2 linked regions of the Homo sapiens genome follow. The protein of the gene in region 2 purifies or fractionates together with the protein of the main gene of each other region. This does not show direct contact. Each region holds a gene or a part of one and is shown on either strand. Other genes may lie near its edges.

Evidence for each region. The genes of interacting proteins can lie anywhere in the genome.
Region 1: the proteins of NBDY (region 2) and EDC3 purify together in Homo sapiens (co-immunoprecipitation; one study listed by IntAct). This does not show direct contact.

Annotation. Positions count from the first base shown.
Region 1 is NC_000015.10:74,668,525-74,672,839, reverse strand, and holds part of EDC3 (enhancer of mRNA-decapping protein 3), read left to right. Parts: intron 1-1,065; coding exon 1,066-1,385; intron 1,386-4,315. UniProt on the Homo sapiens protein: Binds single-stranded RNA. Involved in the process of mRNA degradation and in the positive regulation of mRNA decapping. May play a role in spermiogenesis and oogenesis.
Region 2 is NC_000023.11:56,730,934-56,736,062, forward strand, and holds part of NBDY (negative regulator of P-body association), read left to right. Parts: intron 1-1,129; 3' UTR 1,130-1,266; intron 1,267-5,129. UniProt on the Homo sapiens protein: Promotes dispersal of P-body components and is likely to play a role in the mRNA decapping process.

The sequences.
Region 1 (4,315 bases), on a different chromosome or scaffold from region 2:
TTAAAAAAAAAAATTTTTTTTTTTTGAGACAGAGTCTCACTTTGTTGCCCAGGCTGGAGTGCAGTGGTGCGATCTCTGCTCACTGTAACCTTTGCCTCCCAGGGTGAAACGATTCTCATGCCTCAGCCTCCTGGGTAGCTAGGATTGCAGGTGCGTACCACCACACCCGACTAATCATTTCTATTTAGTTGAGACAGGGTTTTGCCATGTTGACCAGGCTGGTCTCGAACTCCTGGCCTCAAGTGATTCGCCTGCCTCGGCCTCCCAAAATGCTGGGATTATAGGCATGAGCCATGGTGCCCAGTCCATTTAACACTTTTGATTGAATATGTACTTGTCTTTTCCACTGACCAGACTGAGTTCCTGTGGGCACGTAGTGGTTTTCATCTCTATATACCAGATCAAAATAGTTCATAGTGCAGGGCTTACCACATAGTAAGTATTTTATATACTCCTGTTGAATGAGCGAGGGAGTGAATGAATGAACAAAAGCCATTAAACATTGTGGGAATGTAAGATTAATACAGTTTTGTTGTTAGCAATAGCCTCTCTTTTTTTTTTTTTTTTTTTTGAGACAGAGTCTCGCTCTGTCGCCCAGGCTGGAGTGCAGTGGCGGGATCTCGGCTCACTGCAAGCTCCGCCTCCCGGGTTCACGCCATTCTCCTGCCTCAGCCTCCCAAGTAGCTGGGACTACAGGTGCCCGCCACTATGCCCGGCTAATTTTTTTTTTTTTTGTATTTTTAGTAGAGACGGGGTTTCACCGTTTTAGCCGGGATGGTCTCGATCTCCTGACCTCGTGATCCGCCCGCCTCGGCCTCCCAAAGTGCTGGGATTACAGGCGTGAGCCACCGTGCCCGGCCAATAGCCTCTTTTTAAAGGCTAGCATTGTGTCAGTTGGATAGTTGGTGGCTGACCCCTGTCCTTAAGCACACAGCCCCCTTTCCTAGCCTCTGATAACTCAATAAAATGCAGTCCTGCAAAGGGGTAGCTGTTTGCTAATGATCTCAGTTTCATCATTCTTACCACTATTATAATTTTGAGACTTGGCTTTTTTGTGTATTTCAGGGCAGGTGACATTACGGAGTTAAAAATTCTGGAGATACCAGGACCTGGAGACAACCAACATTTTGGAGACCTTCATCAAACAGAATTAGGCCCCTCTGGTGCTGGCTGCCAAGTGGGCATCAATCAGAATGGCACAGGCAAGTTTGTCAAGAAGCCAGCCTCTTCCAGCAGTGCCCCTCAGAATATCCCTAAGAGGACAGATGTGAAGAGCCAGGATGTTGCCGTTTCCCCGCAGCAGCAACAGTGCTCAAAGAGCTATGTCGACAGGCACATGGAATCCTTGAGTCAGTCCAAAAGTTTCCGTCGTCGGCACAACTCCTGTAAGTAGGGTCAAGTTGATATTTCTTCTCAATCTGGTGTTTCAGGGCTATAAGCCATAAGCACTGCTGCTCTTTAAACAAATCCTTTGTTATTCCAATAAAATGGATGCTGGCTGAGCGTCACAGAAATACAACATGGTTCTCTTCCTCCAGGCCTCATTCCTCAAGATGTTAAGGGAAAGGAAATAAGCTGTTAGGGATGCCTGTGAGCTTCCTGCCCTCTCTTACCACTTCCTTCAGGAAAAGTCTGCCCAGAGTTTACTAACAGTGATGTTTTAAATCCAGGAACTACTGGGCGTGGTGGCACGCATCTATAGTCCCAGCTACTTGAGAGGTTGAGGCAGGAGGATTGTTTGAGCCCAGGAGTTCAAGGCTAGTCTGGGCAAAATAGTGAGATTCTGTTTCTGAAAAAGAAAAAAAAAAAAACTTAAATCCTGTTACTGATGTTGGTAGTAGTGTTTGAGTTGAACCTGCACTTGGGCTGTTCCAGAGGATTCTTGAGTAACTTTTCTTCCTGTGATTTGAGTCTCATCCTCAGAAGAGAGGAGGGGACTGATCCAAACATCTCTGTGATCTTTGATTTTCTAGCAGACAATTTTTAATTTGCTGTATTTGTTCCTACTGACACACCAAGAAGAATGTGCATTGGTCTCTGTTGCTGCCCAGTTTTGTTTGATACTAACACATTATTAAATGCCATTTGCTGATTATAAAACCATAGTTGTGACCAGGCACGGTGGCTCACACCTGTAATCCTAGCACTTTGGGAGGCTGAGGCGGGCAGATCACCTGAGGTCAGGCGTTTGAGGCCAGCCTGGCCAACATGTTGAAACCTCGTCTCTGCTAAAAATACAAAAATTATCCGGACGTGGAGGTGCATGCCTGTAATCCCAGCTACTTTGGAGGCTGAGGCAGGAGAATCCCTTGAACCCAGGAGGCAGAGGTTGCAGTGAGCTGATATTGTGCCACTCCAGCCTGGGCGATAGAGCGAGACTCTGTCTCAAAAATAAAATAAATAATATAAAATAAAACCATAGTTGTGTTGGTGGTATGATGGTGAGCATAGCTGCCTTCCAAAACCATAGTTAATTCACTAGAACTGTTCTTCTCCAACATATTTACTAGAATAATGTTACAATAGCGAATCATAACATTCACTGGAATCTGTTATGCTCCTTAAATTAATATGAATGTTGTTTTAAAAAATTACTTCCAAATGCCAAACTATTCTTATTTTACTTAGATGGTTTTGTACTCACAGATGGTAGCAGAATGTATTAGAAATTTTAAGTGAGAGGCTGGGTGCAAGTGGCTCACACCTGTAATCTCACTACTTCAGGAGGCTGGGGCAGGTGGATCGCTTGAGCCCAGGAGTTCGAGACCAGCCTGAGCAACATGGCAAAACCCCATCCCTACAAAAAAAAAAAAAAAAAAAAAAAAAAAATTAGCTGGGCGTGGCAGCGTGCACCTGTGGTCCCAGCTACTCAGGAGGCTGAGGTGGAAGGATGGCTTGAGCCAGGGAGGCGGAGGTTGTGATTAGCCAAGATCATGCCACTGCACTTCAGCCTGGGTGACAGTGTGAGACTGTCTCAAAATGAACAACCAAAAGAAATTTTAAATGAGTATTCATTAACTCATTTAAAATTATAAGCTAGAGTCATGCTATGGCAATACCTTCTAAAAGGCACAATTTAGAGTGAGCTAGGTCTCTCTAGACCCCACTCAGAAAGTTTATTACATAAAATTCCGGATACTTCTTGCTACCATTGTTGCTCCTCACACTGTGGTCCTGGTGGCAATGTAGTAAGGTTTTAGTGTGCTGGGTGAATTCTATTAGTAGCTTGTGGTGTGACACCTGTGTCAGGGGCCAACATTTTAAGTTTTGGAGATGCCTGATTCAAGTGAATAAACAACTAAATTAAAACTAATTTTTTTTTTTTTTTGAGATGGAGCCTTGCTCTGTTGCCCGGGCTGGAGTGCAGTGGTGTGATCTTGGCTCACTGCAACCTCCACCTCCCATGTTCAGGTGATTCTCCTGCCTCAGCCTCCCTAGAAGCTGGTACTACAGGCACTTGCTGCCATGCCCGGCTAATTTTTTTTTTTTTTTTTTTGAGACAGAGTTTCGCTCTTATTGCCCAGGCTGGAGTGCAATGGCGTGATCTTGGCTCACCGCAACTTCCGCCTCCTGGGTTCAAAAGATTCTCCTGCCTCAGCCTCCCGAGTAGCTGGGATTACAGGCATGTGCCACCACGTCTGGCTAATTTTGTATTTTTAGTAGAAACGGGGCTCCATGTTGGTCAGGCTGGTCTCAAACTCTCGGCCTCCCAAAGTGCTGAGATTACAGGCATAAGCCACTGCGCCCGGCTAATTTTTGTATTTTTAGTAGAGATGGGATAATGCCATGTTGCCCAAGCTGATTTCGAACTCATGACCTCAGTTGATCTGCCTGCCTCGGCCTCCCCAAGTGCTGGGATTACAGACGTGAGCCACTGCACCTGGCCTAAAAAAATGTTTTAATGTATGTAATATACAGTTTCAAGGTAGTTTCCTTTGGTGCATATGAAACAACTATCTGAAATGACGATGTTTGCAAATATGAGACTGAAATTCAGTTGTGACTTCTGTATCCTTAGAAAAACTGTAGAATGCTTGGATAGAAAATGATTCTTTCCATTTAGACTTTAACCTTTTTCTTTCTTTCTTTCTTTCTTTCTTTCTTTCTTTCATTCATTTTTGAGACAGGGTCTTGCTTTGTCACTCAGGTTGGAATGCAGTGATACGATCACAGCTCACTACAGCCTTGAACTCCCAGGCTCAAATGATCCTCCCACCTCAGCCTCCTGAGTAGCTGGGACTACAGGTGTGTGCCACCATACCTGGCTAGTCTTTTTACTTTTAGTAGAGACAAGGTCTCACTATGTTGCCCTGTC
Region 2 (5,129 bases):
GTAAACCTTTATGAAGCCCTTGCAATGGGTAGGAATTATTCTGAGAGCTGTAGGGGATGGATGGCCAAGGCATAGTGCCTAGTACATAATAGGAGTGAAACAGATATTTCAATAAATAAATCAATGAATGATGGGACAACTTTGGCGACCAAAAAAGTTTTAGACATTGGGTTTGGTGGTAATGCATAGAAAAAAAAAAATAGAAATCTATTTTACTTGAAAGCATCTCCCTGTCATTCCATACAGTTTTACTTCTCACATGTTTACCTCTATTCAAAGGGGTAGTGGAGTGGAAGGTTGCAGGGAGTAGGGAGAAAATTGCTCAGATAGAAAACAAAAGAGCAGCCGGGCGCAGTGGCTCACGCCTGTAATCCCAGCACTTTGTGCCGCTGAGGTGGGCAGATCACCTAAGGTCAGGAGTTCGAGACCAGCCTGGCCAATATGGCGAAACCCCATCTCTACTAAAAGTAAAAAAAAAAAAAAAAAAAATAGCCGGTCATGGTGTTGTGTGCCTATAATCCCAGCTACTCGGGACGCTGAATTAGGAGAATCGCTTGAATCCAGGAGGCAGAGATTGCAGTGAGCCGAGATCATGCCACTGCACTCCAGCCTGGGCGACAGACCGGGACTCGGTGTAAAAAATAAATAAATAAATAATTTTAAAAAATAAAAAGGAAAAAGAAAAGAAAACAAAAGAACAAAACAATAAGTGCAGTAGCTACATAATTTCCCCTCCAAGTGATTCAAATCACTGATAATTGTAATAATAGCCAATATTTACTGAAGATTTATGTGCCAATTTTCTAAAGGGCTTTGCATGTTATAATTTATTTAATCACAACTCTACTAGAGAAGTTTGTATAGACCAAGGGAAGTTGTATGACTTGCCACAAGTTACACAGCAAGAAGTAGCTGAGCTGAGCTTTGAACCCAGAACACCTGATTCCAGAGTTTATGCTCTAAACTTCTATATAATACATCCCTTCTAATACTATGTATACAACTGTTTTATAGGAATAAATCATTGAAATAGAGGTATGGGAAGGATAATGATTTGAGGAGACCAAGGGACAAAGAGATGGACAAAAACAGAAAAAATGATGCCACAATATTTTTTACTATTTTTCAGTCTTTGAGTGATTGCAGTATGACTCCATTTCCCTGGTGCATTCATATAATAGTTCACCTGGTGAAAACAATGAAGATTATTTACAATGCTACCCTGCTTTTTCTGGTGTCCTGAACCTGGAAGTTGTGCTTTTTAAGGTAATCTCTTTACCAAAAATTATTAAGAGGAGGAAGAGAAAAAAAAGAGTTGGTTTTGACACATTAAAAAGTAGCCAAACAAAACTCAAAAAGATAGCAGCAAATGATAAAATTGAAACTATATTCTACATTATATGAAAACATATTCATAATAATAGTGTAATCTGAAGAAATGTTTTGTTAGATTCACTTGTACTTATAGTTTCTATTATTACTGTGAAATATATCATCTTTTTAACTACATTTTCTAATTGTTTCTAGTAAATGGGAACATGATTGATATTTTTGTATATTTATTTTATATGCTGGAGCCTTCTTAAATTCTGTTTATTCTAATAATGTATAGATTTTCTTGGATTATCTGTTAATTAATTATATTTTGAATAATGACAGTTTCTTTACAATATTTCTTTACCTTATATTACTGTGCTAGCTAGGATCTTCAGTACAAAGAGGAACAACAGCATTGGTAGAGGATTTCCTTATTTTGTTCCTAAATTCTACAAAAGTTTCACCTTTTTTAGTAGATTGTCTTTCTCAAGTTAAGGAACTTTCTTAATGTTCCTAGTTTGCTGAGAGGTTTTATTACAAATATTATGAAGTTTTTTCCCGTCTATATGTACTGCCACTTTCATATCCTTTCTTCACCATTAATATCACAGTGTGACCATGTGATAAATTACAATAATCAATTTTCTAATGTATTTCTTGCTTTTGCTTTCATCGAGCCTCGTCATTGGATATTTGGTTCCTATTTTAATCATTTTGACTTTTATTTTTATATTGAACTTTCTTCTACTTTCCTTTTATTGTTCTTTTTCTAATTTATTGAGTTGAATCTTTAGCATCTTAATTTTCAATGTTCTTCTGTAAAATAAGAATTTAGAACTATAAATTTTCTTCTACCACTTTAGAAATATTTCACAGACTTTTATATATAGTATTTTTATCATTCAATATTTATTATTTTTAAATTTCTCTTATGATTTTTTTGACCCATGGTTTGTTTTTTTTCAATTTCTAATCATATGGGATTCCTTTTTTAAAAAATATATTATGAAATCATTACATTATTCCCATTCTAGTTTAACTTTATCTTATTTTTCTTTTTTAATTTTTTTTACATCTATAGACTTTATTAGATGTTCTTTATACAGTCATCTGGTATGTATAAAGAGTGAACAATCATATAAAAGGAAATATGGTCATAACTGATTGAATTAATAAAATCCTGAAACTAAATAACTCATAATTCATTGCACAACATATATTAGGTTTCATTAGATCAGTATATAGCTTAGTAGTAAACTCTCCTGATGGCCATAAACCTCTAAGGTGTTGTCATCCTGAAAAATGAAGGAGGGGAGGGAGCTGGTGGGGTGCAGAATGGAGAAACCTTCCATAGTGCTGGTGTGATGTACCCTAAGTTGTAAAGTTATAGGGCATCGCCACCTAGTGGCAGAATTTCATGCCTTGTTCTAATTAAGGGACTTTCCTTGTTTTCCAAAGAGCAATGTGTCTTGTTCACTTTCTAACCATCCCTCTCTGATGCTGTCCTTCCTAAAATCCATGCCTCCTCCCATACAGTGTAAACCCATCTGCTTTTCATCCATCAAGCTGTCAAGGATTTGGTTATGACAATTTTTATGTTCACCTAACTTTTTAGTTCCAAGTACTTCGGTTATTTTCAAAGCTACACACAGGATGCCCATATTTTTATAACTCCATCTTATTTGTGAAGGATTATTACTTTGTGCTTTGGCCTAGTTTTTATTCTTACTGCTGAATCTTTTCATAAGTTAAAGTTATTGCAGAGTTAATGCTTTAAAAGGCAGTCCTTAGAGTAAATAGCTAAATGAAATCATTACCAAAATGTACACTTTGGATTTATTAAGATTCTAGAATTTAAAAACAGGAAAAGGTGCCATTAGTGAAAATTCCATCACTAACATTTTGGTACCACTCGTAGAGCATCACATAAATATTCAGACCGTGATAACTCAGTGCAGGAATGTTATCAAATATGTCCATGCAATCTGGAACTAGGACCAGAGTTGGCAATTGGGGGTCTGAAGGCCCAACATCCCTTACACTGCTTCCTACACCTTGACAACAGGAAGGCTGAGTGATACTAGGTAGTGCACTACAACAGTGAACATAAGCCAGCCATCTGTTTTTTGCAAAGTATAATAAAATAGAAAAACAGAACATAGACCACTTCAGAGCAAACAAACATATCCTTCTTCAAGATGTAGGAAAACCATATATTCAAAACCAATCTCAAACTTTAAACAATAAAAGATATCAAACATTTTAAACTGTACAAAGCAAATTAGCAAGATTTTAATGTTGGCAGTTTTAAAATGTCACCCATCCAAAACACAAAACAGGGAGATAACCAAGTCTTAGCTCCATCCTAATCAAAGCTGTCATGCAGATCCAGTTCCACTCTTCTCATCTCCAGCAGGTACTTCACTCAAGGAGGTAACACCCAAGGGGAGTAGATGGACCAAAAACAAGAGTGCCACATAGAAGGAAGAGAGGGGACCTTGGACTTTAGCTACTGGTTAGCTATTCAACTTTGATGATATTCAGTGTTTTCCCAAGTTATTTTTTCTCGCTTCTCATCACATAATTTACATTATGCATACTATGTGCCAGAGACTGTTTGACATGTAGTCAGTTAATTTTCACAACTGTGTAAAGTTGGTTTCTATCATTAGCTCTATCTTAGGGCCAAAGAAACTGAAGCACGGAGAGGTTAAATTGTATTCCTAAAGCACTACACAGTGAGCAAATAGATTCAGACCTGTGCAGTCTAACCCAGAATTAGCTCTGAATCACTCTACCATTCTGTCTACAGGACAACAAGCCTGTGTGTTTCAGGTACTTTCATGGTGATTTTTCACACAGGACAGCTTTTGATAATAGAAAGGCCCTCTCTTTCAAATGAAAGGACTTCACTGATGGATTAACAAATTCTCACCTTTTCACCTATGTGAGCCAAATACTAGATCTACTTTCTTAGTCTTCATAACAAGCAGGACGATAACCATAATTTATAATGAACACAAAACATTGATATAGTGTTCAAAGAACTTTTGCACACTTGGTCTCGTTTGGAAGAATGAAGTAATCTGGAAACATAGAATAGGCATACACTGTGACTTTAGGAAGAACTCTCACAAAATCAGAGGTTGCCCTATGTAATATCACACTTTTTACCTTGAGCAGGTGGATAGCCTGGGAGTTCTTGTTATACCTCAATCTTGGTCCATTCTATTTGTTCCCCTGTCCTTCAGCAGTGCCCTTAGGCTTGCTTTAAACATTAACAGCATTCATAAGCATGGTTTCTAGGGTCAGAGCCCAGCCTCCCTCCACCCACCCGGCTCCCTACACACCTTGACAGTGCTCTTTGAGATGCCTCAGTTCTAGTCTCCTTGTAATTGTGCACAGTAGATGTCTGAACAAATAGACCAGAGTCCTGCAAAAGTGATCTTGAAATCACAATTAAAAGAGACTTTGGAGAGATCTACTCAGGAAAATTTTCTGAATAGACAAATGCTTTTAAAGGGGGTTCTAGACAGTCCGTCTTTTCTGCCTCCTTCTGCGAAGTAGGGCTACACTAAAACCTTGTCACAATGTGACCTGAGCAAAACCATTATCAAGTGATTTAGTTGTCTTGAACCAGACAAAAGAAAATTGACATGATTTCAAGATAGGTTTAGAAAAATAATCTGACTAGCAAAAAAAAAAAAAAAAATGGGGGGTGGTTCCTAGGGAATATGAGACTTGATATTTTAGCAAAAATTTAAATATGCTCTTTATGATACACACATTTCTCGTTGCTTTACAAATTTTAA